Linked DNA regions of Homo sapiens. The protein of the gene in region 1 interacts with the protein of each later gene in a pairwise test. Each region holds a gene or a part of one and is shown in the gene's direction. Other genes may lie near its edges.

Region 1 (7,208 bases):
ATTTATTAATGCTTTACATTTTTACCCCTTTTTGTGTAAACACAAATACACCCATGCATATACACACAAACATTATTGTCCTTGTGAGGGTTTGGGGGAAATGAAAAATAGTACCTTTCTCCTCTTCTTTTGATTCCTTAGTTCCCAAATAGACTGGTGCTAGTCATTTAGTCATCTGTAAATTTCGAAATGTAGTTTGATTAAATGTGAACTGAATTCTCAGCAATGAAAAATGTCAAGTTGAATTCATCTAATAAGTGAAAATAATATATTTTGTAAACAGATTACATTTGAACACCTAAATAAGTATTTGTTTCATAATCATTACATGCTTGTTTATGATTTACAAAGATTTGGTAGAGAAAAGTACAGTCCTTAAGGCATATATATGCCAATGCATTAAACTACTCAGCTTTTGTGCCAGCTCAGGTGTTCATAGGAACAGGAATGTGGAATACCAGCTTTTTACTTTAATTATACTTTTATGCTGAATTTTTCTTCCAGTTAAACCTTTAATTACACTAGTATGTAAAGTAGTTACTGAGAAAAATAAGTTTTTGATTTCCCTTCTGTTGATCTGTAACATTTTTAAATGAAGCTATTTAACACATGACATGCTAATGTTACTTAATGGATTCCTATGTATTTCATTAAAAAAAAGTCTCCCACCTGTGTTAAGACAGCTAAATATTTCTTGATGTTGGCTTGAGGACCAAGTGAGCCATCTTGCCAGTTAAGCAAGTTTTATATCAGAGGACCAAATGGTTAAGAAGAGAATTTGTACATTTCTTGAGCTTCCCCATGTGAAGCTTGGGTTCAGTACTATCCTATTACTATCCATCTTCATAATGAGTGAAGCAAACTGAAAGGGAATTCATAATCTTTTTTCTTATCTGAACAGAAAAACTAATGAAAATCAACAATAAATCTTTATTTTAATTTTCATTCAACAGCTGAAAAACCATGTCTGTTGACCACATTGGACCATTGCCTAGTTAAAATCCATAAAATTCCCTATAAACCAATGAAAAGAAACTTGTCTGGCAATAATTTCCAACATTTTAAATTCTAATTTTTAGTTACAAAGAAAAAGGATAGAATGAGGCTTTTCAAGGAATTCTTGCTCATCCCTTCAATTATTTGGCAGGTAAAACAGTCCTAGAATTCAGCTTCCTTTTTGGTTTTATTACTATTAAATAGATACTTTCATATAAATGGAAACACTTTTCCTCAAAACATTAATTCAAAACATACTCCTTATATTAAGGATTATAGCACCATATTTTTTGTATATTCCCTATGTGTAACTTTTTCCTGTTGGTATGTGATATTTTTCATTTAATATGACTATCTGCTGGTGTTGGGGCCAATAGATTTGTGAATATTCTGTGGATGTGTCTATGTATAGGTGTATATATATATATATATATTTTTTTTTTTTTTTCCCAGCTAATTACCTCAAATGTGTGATTGTTTAATATATACCACACTATGTTTGCACAGAGCAGGGCTTCCATTAGCAGTGGATATTTTTATGTCTGACTTTGAAAATCAGTCAACACAATTTCATTGGTGTGAATTATTTGTTGCTCTTTTTCATATTTTAATGGAGAGATTCCTATTATAAGGCCCATGCTTCAAACATAATTATATCTTTCTATATCCAGCCATCTGGAAATACATAGGGGTAAGAAGTATTTCTTGAAATGTCCTTGTTTAGTAAGTTAGTAAAAACTGGGATGACTAGTTGCCAAGATGTCTTGTAACTGCATAGCAGATGACACCTGGCATGGCAAGTCTCATTCACTTCAGCACAACACTCTGTACATTTCAGTCTGATATTCTACTTTGCCATTTAAGGACACCATTAAAATCATAGAGATTTTCAGTGACATTGGAGTATTGTAATTATTACTTTCAAAAAATTATTTTTAATAGGATGATTAAACCAATGAGAAGAAACACACATAAATGATATTTTGCAGTTTATCTGTATTAAGAAATGCTTCTTGCCAATTTCTAGTTTTAGTTTTTGGATTGCTACATAAGACTTTCTTTCCATTTACTTTATGTGTTTTTAAAAGCTGCAGGTAATTTTTAAGGTTTGATGGAATTATAATGGAAGCCTTGTATAAGTTAAATGAAATTGGTAAAGGAGAGCTTACTTTGTCTATAATGCATTCAGGATTAAAAATTAGATTTCAAAATGAAATGTCTGATTTGTAAAATATTTAATGTTATATCAGACTTACATAAAATTTTCTGTGAGAACTCAAATGCATTTGATTTTTAATGAATGTTCTGAATGAAATATGAATTTTTGTCTTTCAGTCTCTGTAGTTTATCTCAATATATTAATAAAAAGGTCTGTTCTCACTGTAAAATGTTTGTTTTTATCATGTTTTATACTCAATATGGCCACTCTTTCATTCATTCAACTATTCAACAAGTATGTCAATGCTTGCTATATCCCAGGCAGTGAGCTGGGTGCTGGGAATTAATCACTGAATAAGAAAGACAAAAACCTTAAAGAGTTTACATCTAGCAAAGAAAATAAATATCAAGTAAATAATTATAATTATGATAAATTCTACAAAGAAAATTACAGGGTACAATGAAAGCATTTATCTAGAAGACCTAAACTATTCAGTGAGGGTCAGGGAAGGCTTCTCTGAGAGTGAGTTTAAGCCAAAATGCAAAAGATGAGATTAGTAGGATTAAGGTATGCTAGAGAAATATCTCAGGCAGAACGTGCTAAGTTGGTAAAGTGATAAAAATCTTTATGGAAGTGAAAACAAACTTGTATGATCATAGCATAAGGAATCCAGGGTAGGTGAGAGAATTAAGATAGGGGCCAGATCCCCATAAGAATGATATATAAACCATGATGCTGATATTGAACTTTATCCTAAGTCAATAAACTTGATTTTCAAGGAAGGAGTTAAATGATGTGATTTGGGTCTTTAGAACATCATTTTTGTTGCTGTGTGGAGACTGGAGGGCAAAAGAGAATGTAAGAAGAATAGGAGGTTGTTGTCAAAAGAGAGATGATCATGGCTTGGAGTAGGGTAGGAATATAGATAGGTGAATAGTTTTCAAAGATAGGAGGTAGAATCAACAGAACTCTGATTAGATTTGTGACATATGGAAGCAGCAATTGAAAACCAGGCTAAAGTTTTCTGAAAATTTGGCTATGAAAGGGAGTAGAGGAAAAACAGTGTGGTAGCTGAAAGAGGATGCGATTTCTAAAGAAGCTTTTCTTTTGAGGGTCTCGCTCTGTCACACAAGCTGGAGTTCAGTGGGGCGATCACCACTCGATGCAGCCTCAAACCCTGGGCTCAAGGGATCCTCCTGCCTCAGCCTCCCGAGTACCTGGTGCACGCCACGTTCGGATAATTCTTAATTATTATTATTATTTGTAGAGATGGGGTCCTATCTTGCCAGGCTGCTGTGGAACTCCTGGGCTCAAAGGATCGTCCCGCCTCGGACTCCCAAAGTGCTGCGACTACAGGCGTCAGCCACCGCACCCGGAAAGCCTTTTATTTTTTTCAATTATTATTTATTACATGAGACCTTACTAATTTTTAAAAATTCTGATGTAAAAGGGAACATAGAAGGTGCCCGTAATCAGTGTCTGCATGTTAAAAGTAGACGCTTGAAGTGCTCCAGAAAACCCATGGCTCCTCCCCATTCAATCTAGGTAAGGCCTTCAGTAAAGAGCACCCATGGGGAAGTCACAAGAGCCTAGGAAACAGGTCAGAAACCTGTGGACCTGGTACTTCCAATCACAGGCAATCTGGTGCTTGCTCTTCAGCTCATCACACCATCCCCTCAAATTTCTTCATCTACAAGAAAAGGTTTTAAGATAACAGACCCTGCAAAACTAATGACATTTATACACCCTCTCTGCACAAGAATGTCTTGTAACACATAACCTTGCTTGCATTTTCTGGGTTCCTTAGGGTCCAGCGATCTCGTACAAATCTACCCCACAGCTGACTTCCTTCGGCCCGTGACACAAGGCGCAGGCGCAAGACGCGGCCCGCGGTGGGCGGGGGAGGGGCGGGGCGCGTGCGGGGCGGGGGGGAGGGGAGGGGCGCGGCCGCCGGACGCGCCCTCGCAGCTTCCGCCGGGCCCCTCCGGAAATCCCGTATCGTAGGGCGACGGCGGCTTAGAAAGTGCTTCCTGGAGCGCAGACGAGGTCATGAATCATGTGACGGTGGCTTGAGGAGGAACCTGTCTTTAAAGCTGTCCCTGAAGTGACAGCGGAGAGAACCAGGCAGCCCAGAAACCCCAGGTAACTGGCGCTACTTTGCCTGGTTTTGAGGCCTAGTCCCGCAGGTGGCGCGGGTGGTGAGATTAAACAGAAGGAGAGGACCCTCTCTTCTTTTCTTTGGGCCTAGCTCTTTGGGGTGGAGGGGCAGGGATGGGGTGGGCTGAGGTAAGGTGTGCCAGCTGAGTACCTGTGGGGGTGCTGGGGCACTCCGACTCCCACTGGGCTCGCTGGGCCAAGCCCTAGAACCGCGGGGGTTTTACCTGGTTCTGACCAGGGCTGATCTCGCGTATTAAGTTGTGGGTGGGGAGGACGAGGAAGCCAAAGAGGGAAGAGTCACCGGGAGTTTCTCTTCCAGGCGTGGAGATTGATCCTGCGAGAGAAGGGGGTTCATCATGGCGGATGTGAGTGACACCCCTACATAAGAGGAAGGGGAGAGTGGGGAATTTTGAGGGGCATACTGAGCGGGGAGAGGTAGAACTTCCCAAACAGAAATTTGTTTTGATCCTCCCAGCCCCACCCATCCCAGTTAATTATTTTCTCTGATATCTGAAGTGGGAGACTAATATGAATGAATTTGCAGGATCCTGAGTTTCTGCCTCGAATGGGGGTGTAGGACACTAAGGTGCTTGAGACTGAGAAAATTAGGTTCTCCCTACTCCCCAGTCCAGCTGGGGCATAAGAGAGGCTCTGTATATTTACCATTTGAAATTCTGAATGATGGTTTGCTGCTTTTCCTGTCAGAATTTGGTCAGTAGGACATGTACCCACAATACTTTTTTCCAGTAAGTGATAACAATATCTCATTTGGTTTATTGTAGCAATTTACGATGATTTCTAACCCATGCCTCTTTAGAAACATGGTAACGTGTGTGTGTGTGTGTGTAGGAGGATAAAATGATCAGTCGGGTTTGGAGAATAGTAAGTGCTGGATGCTCAAAACAAGAGATACCTGATTAATCCATGTGAGGTCAAAATTGATACCTAAATTGTCAGTGAAATTCCTGGGATAAGAGAGTGTAATGAGACAAAATAAGATAGTCTTCTGGCCAATGCGGTTGCTTAGTCTGTAATCTCAGCACTTTGGGAGGCCGAGATGGAAGGATCACTTGAGGCCGGGAGTTCAAGATCAGCCTGGGCAACATAGCAAGACCCCGTTCTACAAAAAGAAATTTAAAAATCAGCCAGGCGCATTGATACCTCTGTAGTCACAGCTATGCTGGAAGTGAGGCGAGACGATTGCTTGAGCCCAGAAGTTGGAAGTTGCAGTGAGCCCCAGCTTAGAAAAATAAAATAGTCTTCTACTTCTTTAGTCTTAACTGTGTTTCGTGTTAAACACTTGACACACATTGTCATTTATTTTATATTCTGTAACACTGGGCTGGGCGCGGTGGCTCACGTCTGTAATCCCAGCACTTTGGGAGGCCAAGGCGGGTGGATCACCTGAGGTCAGGAGTTCGAGACCAGCCTGGCCAACATGGTAAAACGTTGTCTTTTCTAAAAATACAAAAAATTAGCTGGGCATGGTGGCAGGTGCTTGTAATCCCAGCTACTCGGGAGGTTGAGGCAGGAGAATCGTTTGAACCTGGGAGGCAGAGGTCGCAGTGAGCCGAGATCGCGCCATTGCACTCCAGCCTGGACAACAAGAGCGAAACTCCGTCTCAAAAAAAAAAAAAAATGTTGCCTCACATAGTCATATAGAATTTATTTTAGGTCCTTAAACAAAATATTTTAAAAATTACGTTATAATAATATGCCTTACACTGTTTCATTATTTGTTGAGTAGGTGAGTTCAACAAATAATGAAACAATGGAAGGCATATTTTTATAATGTGATAGTCACGTGAGACAACAGTCTTACAGAGGTCATATCACCTTACCCAAGACCATTAAGATGATGGTGGAAAGTCTATCTTTGAACATGGAAAGGTGTTTATAACGTCTTCTCAAGTGAACACAATAGCAACAGGATGTAAAACACTAGTATGAAAATTATGATGTAATTTTATGGCTAAAATGTGTTTCCCATTTCTAGGTATGCTAATCCATGCATCTTCTCAATAAACTTTTAACAACACTTTTATGATGTAGGTTCTATATTAGCCCTATTCAACAAATAATGAAATAAGCTTAGCGAAAAAAGGTTGGTTAACTTACTCCAAGTTGCGTGACTAGTAAACATCCAAATCAGACAGAGAAAGATAAAACACAGCAAGAAAGGTTATGAATGATAACTGAAGTTCCTTAAAATTTGGATAGGACAGGATCTAGAAAACAGTGGAAGGCCTATTATTACAACATTATTTTTTAATGCTCTCTTTCAGGACCTAAAGCGATTCTTGTATAAAAAGTTACCAAGGTAAGAAATTTTTAATTTGTTATTGAATAAATTCTATATGCCATATGTTAATTTTATGAAGCATTTTGTCTGTATTTTCCATGTTGTGAAGTATCTCTGAGATTTCCTTTAATATGAATATTTTTTGCCAGCCTCACGTCCTCTGGAAAATTTTCGTCACAACCGCTTTCCTCATTTATGTCAATAAGTTTGCCTTCACTGAGTTCTCTGTGTATCTAGAGCGATAGTGTCAGCATTCCCTTGGTCATCTGTTTCTTCTATAATTCTTTACTTTCTATTTGAAATTCAGCATTTCTATTTGAAATTTCAGCATTATTACTTTTCATTTCTTTGCTGTATTTCGTCTTTGTTGGCCAGTTTCCTCTTTTTATTATCTCTTTTTCTAAATGTCACATACTTTATCATTGGGAGACAAGGAGGTACAAAACTACATGCTTTGCTATCTCTGCATGAGCTGCATAACAGATGCACAGTGACCAACCATCAACATACTTTGAAAGAAATGATGTGGCTGGTTACTGATGACAGTGTGCATCTGTTAATTACATAATTATTTATGTAGTGATTTGTGGACTA
Region 2 (7,213 bases), on another chromosome or scaffold:
TGTTGTAGAACCCAAACTCACCCCCAAGCCACCTTCAATCACCACTCATATCTATCCCTAAATACCCCCAACTTCACCATCCAGCTGCCCTCCCACTTCGCTCCACATGTCCCCTTCACAGCACCTTGAAGTTGTCTTGCAGTGAAACCCCAGATAAGGTTGCAGTGAGCCGAGATCGCACCACTGCACTCCAGCCTGGATGACAGAGCGAAACCCTGTCTCCAAAAAAAAAGAAAGAAAGAAAGAAAGGAACTCCAACTATATGGCAGGGGTGCAAGTATTGAGAAAGTTGAGAATGAGATATTGATAGAAACTAGGGCCGGGCATGTGGCTCATGCCTTTAATCCCAGCGCTATGGGAGGCCGAGGCGGGCGGATCACTTGAGGTCAGGAGTTTGAAACCAGCCTGGCCAACATGGGGAAACCCTGTCTCTACTAAAAATACAAAAAAAATTAGCTGGCCGCGGTGGCGGGCACCTGTAATCCCAGTTACTTGGGAGGCTGAGGCAGGAGAATCGCCTGAACCCAGGAGGCAGAGGCTGCAGTGAGCCGAGATAGTGCCACTGCACCTCAGCCTGGGTGACAGAGCGAGATTCCATCTCAAAAAAAAAAAAAAAAGAGAGAGAGAAAAAGAAAAAAGAAGTCCGGGTGCAGTGGCTCACGCCTGTAATCCCAGCACTTTGGGAGGCCGAGGCAGGCGGATCACGAGGTCAGGAGATCGAGACCATCCTGGCTAACATGGTGAAACCCCGTCTCTACTAAACATACAAAAAAATTAGCCGGGCATAGTAGCGGGTGCCTGTAGTCCCAGCTACTGGGGAGGCTGAGGCAGGAGAATGGCGTGAACCCGGGAGGCGGAGCTTGCAGTGAGCCGAGATCGTGCCACTGCACTCCAGCCTGGGCAAGAGCGAGACTCTGTCTCAAAAAAAAAAGAAAAAGAAAAGAGAGAGAGAAACCCAGAAAGATGCAGGGTAGGCATATCATGCAGGGTGTCATGGGATATCACTTGTCATGGAGACATTTGAGATGCGTGTGTGAAGCTGGTGTTTGTAGGATTGGGATGTGTGACAAGATAATTACTCTGTGGCTCTACTGCTATAAATATTTGTTGCCAGTCTGTTGTAAGTCTTTTAACTTTGTAGCATCTTTCATCAGACAGTATGTAGTTTTATTTATTGATTAATTGATACAGAGTCTCATTCTGTCGTCCAGGCTGGAGGGTAGTGGTACAAACACGGCTCACTGCAACTTCAAACTTTCCAGGCTCAAGCGATCCTCCTGCCTCAGCCTCCCAAGTAGTTGGGACCACAGGTGTGCACCACCATACCTGGCTAATTTTTCTTTTCTTTTCTTTTCTTTTTTTTTCTTTTTTTCTGAGACAGAGTCTCACTTTGTCCCCAGGCTGGAGTGCAGTGGTGCAATCTCGGCTCACTGCAACCTCCGCCTCCTGGGTTCAAGAGATTCTCCTGCCTCGGCCTCCCAAGTAGCTGGGACTACAGGCCAGGCGCGTGCCACCATGCCCAGCTAATTTTTGTATTTTTAGTAGAGACGGGGTTTCACCATGTTGGCCAGGATGGCCTCAATCCCTTGACTTTGTGATCCTCCCGCCTCAGCCTCCCAAAGTGCTGGGATTACAGGCGTGAGCCACCATGCCCGGCCTAATTTTTTAAAAGTTTTTTTGTACAGACGGGGTCTCCCTATGTTTCCCAGACTAGTCTCAAACTCCCGGGCTCAAGCAATTCTCCCACCTTGGCCTCCCAAAGTGTTGGGATTACAGGTGGGAACCACCCCGCCAGACCCTCCTCTTTCTTCTTTTGTAAAATTAGCCATTCTTACATGTTTGTTTTTGTTTTTTTTGAGACGGAGTCTAGCTCTGTCTCCCAAGCTGGAGTGCAGTGGCACGATCTTGGCTCACTGCAACCTCCACCTCCCGGGTTCAAGCGATTCTTGTGCCTCAGCCTCCCTAGTAGCTGGGATTACAGGCGCACGCCACCATGCCTGGCTAATTTTTTTGTATTTTTAGTAGAGACAGGGTTTTGCCACGTTGGCCAGGCTGGTCTTGAACTTCTGACCTCAAGTGATCCACCTGCCTCGGCCTCTCAAAGTGCTGGGATTACAGGCGTGAGCCACCGCACTGGGCCATTGTTTTTGTTTTTGAGACAGAGTCTCACTCTGTCGCCCCAGGCTGGAGTGCAGTGGCGTGATCTCGGCTCACTGCAACCTCCGCCTGTCGGGTTCAAGCTATTCTCCTGCCTCAGCCTCCCGAGTAGCTGGGACTACAGGCCAGGCGCAGACCACCACGCCCGGCTAATTTTTGTATTTTTGTAGAGACGAGGTTTTGCCATGTTGGCCAGGCTGGTATCGAACTTCTGGCCTCAAGCGACCCACCAACCTTGGCCTCCCAAACTGCTGGATTACAGGTGTGAGCCACCGTGCCCGGCCCATTCTTACATGTTTAAGGCATCATAGGAATTTTAACATTGGATCTACAAGTTCCGTTTTAGAGTTTTGATTGGTACAATTGGTAATGTATTCTTTTTTCTTTTTTTTTTTTTTTTGAGACTGAGTCTCACTCTGTCACCCAGGCTGCAGTGCAGTGACACTATCTTGGTTCACTGCAACCTCTGCTTCCCGGTTCAAGGGATTCTCCTGCCTCAGCCTCCCGAGTAGTTGGGATTACAGGCGCCCGCCACCACGCCCGGCTAATTTTTTGTATTTTTAGTAGAGACGGGGTTTCACCGTGTTGGCCAGGCTGGTCTCAAACTCCTGACCTCAGGTGATCCACCCGCCTCGGCCTCCCAAAGTGCTGGGATTACAGGCATGAGCCACCGCGCCCGGCCAGAAGTCATCTTTATTATGTAGAGGTTTCCCCCTTGTACGAGATGGTTGTGTGTGAGTATGGATGAGTTTACGAAAGCAACTGACAGACCTGTGAAATAATGATGCCAATACAGGAAGGTCCAAGGTAAATGAAAGCCCGGTGAAATTCCTGGAGGCGCAACTCAGGGTGGGGTCTTGGGATGTCAGGAAAGAGGAAGGGAAGGCTGTAGGTCTGGGTGTTTTGTGAGCTATTTGCACCTGAGGATATATGAGTGAGACCCTCCGCCTTGTGCGAGCCGGCTTGCATGCGTCTGGCATACAGAAGCGCTCAGTGAATGTTGAATAAGTGAACAAATGAGTGAATCAACTAATTTTGGGAAGCTTCTTGTATGCCAAACAACCTGCTAGCACTTTTCATACATTATCTTTAATCCTCAGAACAACCCTGCCAGACAGGTATTTTGACCCCCATTTAACAGGCCAGGAAAGCTGAGGCTGGGAGAGGGGAGGTCCCCTTCCCTATTCAAACCTGGATCTTTGTGATTCCAGAAGTCGTCATTCACCGAAGGGACCAGATTCATTCACCCGTCAAGAATTTATTAAGCACATATTGCGCAGCGCAATGAACATAGTACAACCGCTCTCGATGGCATGGAACAGGCGGAATACTCCCGGAAGACCAGCTGGGCGGCTGGACTGCGGACAGCGAAAGGGGGGGGTTTCTGGCCCGCACCTTCAGGGAATGTAGCTGCCTCTGCCTCATAGTTATGGCTTTGGCTGAGAGAGCACAGCCAGATCGAGGTTGGAGCGCGGTCTAGGGCTCAGATATTACAAATATTGGCCGAAAGAGGGCGCGGTTCCGCAGCTAAAAGCTTGGCCAGGAGACCCTCCGTGCGCCGACTGGCCATCGATGCGCAGGCGCAGAGGACCCAAGGAGCGGCTTAATATTACCTTGCAGAGGGATAATTTGAGAAGAGAGGGCGTGGCTCCGAAAGCGACGCAAACATAGAGGCGTGGTTCAACCAAATCAACCCTCGCCTATTTGTCGCTGCCCCTGAGGGCGTGGTCTGGGTGCTGCTTCTCGGAATGAGGGCGGGCCGAATCGCGTTTTTCCTCCGCGTCGGAGGCGTCGCTTAGGGTGGGCCCTCGAATCGCCGTTCAGCGATTGGCCGCCTCGCTAATGGGTCGTGGCCAGACGGGCCATCCATCCCCAGTGCGGTCACTTCCTGTGGAGTTTCCCCATCCCTGGGAGGAGGGAGGAGGGGGAAGAAGACGAGGGGGAGGAGGGCGGTCGTCCGGGGTTAGGTTGAGGGGGGGCGTCGGTCCGTTCTGGGCGGGGGATGACTCACAGCCCATCCCATCTCCCCGACGCCGCCCGCCCGCGCAGTGCTAGCTCCATGGCTTAGCGGAGGAGGCGGCGGTGGCGAGCTGGGGGGAGGGGGGACTCTTATTTTGTTAGGGGGACCGGGCCGAGGCCCGACCGGCCTGGCAGGGCTCGCCCGGGGCCGGGCGTCATGTCTCATGCGGCCGAACCAGCTCGGGATGGCGTAGAGGCCAGCGCGGAGGGCCCTCGAGCCGTGTTCGTGCTGTTGGAGGAGCGCAGGCCGGCCGACTCGGCTCAGCTGCTCAGGTGCGGGGCCGCCTGGGGCTGGGAGTGCCGACTGGGGCTCCCAGGGGCCTGATCTCGGGGGCAGTGGGGGCCCCGGACTGGGATTGGAGGCCCTCGGCCTAGCCTTGGAGGACGTCGGGGCGCCCGTCTTGGGGGGGCACCTAAGGAATCCGGCAGTGGCCTGCTTGGATTGTGGCTTTATTAAAGGAGTCGTGGGAGTGCATTAAGCGGGGTCTGGGTCAGGTTTGGGGAGCCCTTGACTGCGTCTAGAGGGGCCTATTCTGGAGTATCCAGAAACTGGTCTGAGATAGCTGAACTTGGTAGACAGGGTCTCTGATTAGAGGCTGAATTCGGGGATTTTCAGTCGGACATGAGGGGAATGAATTTGAGGGGACACTGTCAGGTGAGGCACTGGTTTTAAGGGAATCCTAGAATCTTTTTTCCCTCAGTGTGGGAGAAGGGGTCCTGAGGGACAGAAGTGCTGTCTTGGGAGCTTGGTGCCTCTCAGTGACTGGTTGCTGTGTTTGGGGATAACATGAATCTGGAGGGATTTGGAGGTATCTCAGATATGCTGCCTGGGACCAGCCTTGTGAGTGCGTGTGAATGAACAAGAGAAGCAACATTCAGCAAGACTTGACCAGAATAATCCTTTCCCCTCTGCCCGCCTACCCAGCTGGGGCAGATCCCAAGGATAGTGGAAAAGCCCTCTTCCCACACCTGTTAAGGGCCTGAATGGAAGATAGACAGCCAGGCAGAGGGCGATGATGTTACCTCTTAGCTCAGAGGCCTCAGACCTTGTTTGGGAACCCAGAGGAGGCTCTTGTTCATGCTGCTACTCGCTCTAGCCTCTCAGCCCTTCCCACTCCCTAGCCCCACACCCCTTTTCTTTTTATCTTCTTTTCGATCTCCGAGCTCCTGGGGGTAATCTTGAATCTGTCCATAGAGCTGGAACGAGTACAGATTGCACCATCCCTGCCTGGGTGGATCCCCTCTGGCCTCTTCTCATCCTTACTTTCATCAATGGGCTTTGGAGCCCCAGCCCTCCCTGCTCACCCCAGTGCCCATCTCTTCCAACTTCTGTGCAATGGGTGTGTGAGCCCTGGGTGGGGGGGGGTCTTTGCCTCCTTTGTGCCTGGGATTGTGCTGAGCTCAGTGGCTCGCCCGAGCTTCCTCTTCCCAACTTCCTGGGTGGTTTTAGGGCTCCATCTGAGGGTGAGGAGAGGAAGGAAGACAGATCCTTGGGGAGGGGAGAGGATTCTTGTCAAGTGAAGTCACCAGCAATCTCTCAGCATTCTAAATGTTTAGCTAAATTGAAGGATGCATATTCATCCACGTGTGTGTTAACTGTCCCTTGCTCTCTGGGGCTGAGCAGAGCCTTTCTGTATATCGATTCACCATCTTCTAATTCCTCTGTAACAACCTAGATCATCGCAGTAGTGGACATAGTTAAAGGGATGGGTGTATATGGCTTCTTATTTTGTGCGCCAGTGGGTGTTAGTGTTGGGGGTGTGTGTGTGTTTTGATCTATCCAAAAAAACAGGAGAAGGCTGGGCAGGCTCCTCCGGTAAGAAAAGAATGCTTGTATAAAGTGGATCAACCACCCAAATTCTCCCTCTTGTAAATCCAGTCTGTTGGAGCGAGGGGAGCCTTTGATATTTCTATTTTATATTTAGGCATGTGTTGGCATCCCATGAACTCTGGCTGGGGCTGGGAGAAACTCATTTGTGAAATGGTAGATCTTTACGTCAAGTGAATTATTTCCAGTTCTCTTTGTGATGCATTCAGTTTGTGTTACAAGGGACTGTTATGCTGAGGGATGCCCCTACTTGCTCTGTGTGTGTGTGTGTGTACACACATATACCTGGGCTCACATTCAGCTGTAAAGAAAATAGCAGGGGGTTGGCCGGGCGCAGTGGCTCACACCTGTAATCCCAGCACTTTGGGAGGCCGAGGCAAGCGGATCTTGAGGTCAGGAGATCGAGACCATCCTGGCTAATACGGTGAAACCCCGTCTCTACTAAAAATACAAAAATTAGCCGGACGTGGTGGCGTGTGCCTGTAATCCCAGCTACTCGGGAGGCTGAGGCGTGAGAATCACTTGAACCCAGGAGGCAGAGCTTGCAGTGAGCTGAGATCGCACCACTGTACTCCAGCCTGGTGACAGAGCGATACTCTGTCTCAAAAAAAAAAAAAAAGTAGGGGGTATGGGGGCTGGGAGAACTCTGAATAGGAAGTCAGGAATCCTTCTATAAAGTGAATTGTTATTCCTAAATTCTGTTTTCCTCAAACCCAGGTTGTTACAGTGTGGGGGTTGGGATGCAGGCGTTCTTATTATTCTGACTCCTAAGGGACTATGAGTAACACAGTGGGGAAGGGAAAGGGGGATGGGGGAAGGAGGTGGGAATTCATGGTGGTGTGGTACCCAGCAAGGTGGCCAAATATGAGGGGCTTGTACCCTCCTCTTCGTTCTCCCCCCCTCTCTCTCTCTTTCTCTGTCTCAGGGGAGGGCTGGGGAATAAGGTCCTTCATTCAATCACTGACCACCACTCCACCTCCCCCTCAGCCTGAACTCTTTGCTTCCGGAATCCGGGATTGTTGCTGACATAGAATTAGAAAACGTCCTTGATCCTGACAGCTTCTACGAGCTCAAAAGCCAACCCTTACCCCTTCGCTCAAGGTATGTATGACTTGTCTATCTGATTCCCCTCCCAATTCCTCAGCCCTCCTCTCCCCTCTTGATGGGCAGAGGCCCTCAGTACCAGCCCAACCCATTCTTTCACCAGCC

Evidence for each region.
Region 2: the proteins of LAMTOR3 (region 1) and TFE3 interact in binary tests that used the Homo sapiens proteins (3 or more experiments, as listed by UniProt).

Annotation. Positions count from the first base shown.
Region 1 is NC_000004.12:99,891,424-99,898,631, reverse strand, and holds the start of LAMTOR3 (ragulator complex protein LAMTOR3), read left to right. Parts: upstream 1-4,204; 5' UTR 4,205-4,297; intron 4,298-4,631; 5' UTR 4,632-4,668; coding exon 4,669-4,677; intron 4,678-6,597; coding exon 6,598-6,632; intron 6,633-7,208. UniProt on the Homo sapiens protein: As part of the Ragulator complex it is involved in amino acid sensing and activation of mTORC1, a signaling complex promoting cell growth in response to growth factors, energy levels, and amino acids.
Region 2 is NC_000023.11:49,040,347-49,047,559, reverse strand, and holds the start of TFE3 (transcription factor E3), read left to right. Parts: upstream 1-4,202; 5' UTR 4,203-4,333; coding exon 4,334-4,449; intron 4,450-6,991; coding exon 6,992-7,105; intron 7,106-7,213. UniProt on the Homo sapiens protein: Transcription factor that acts as a master regulator of lysosomal biogenesis and immune response.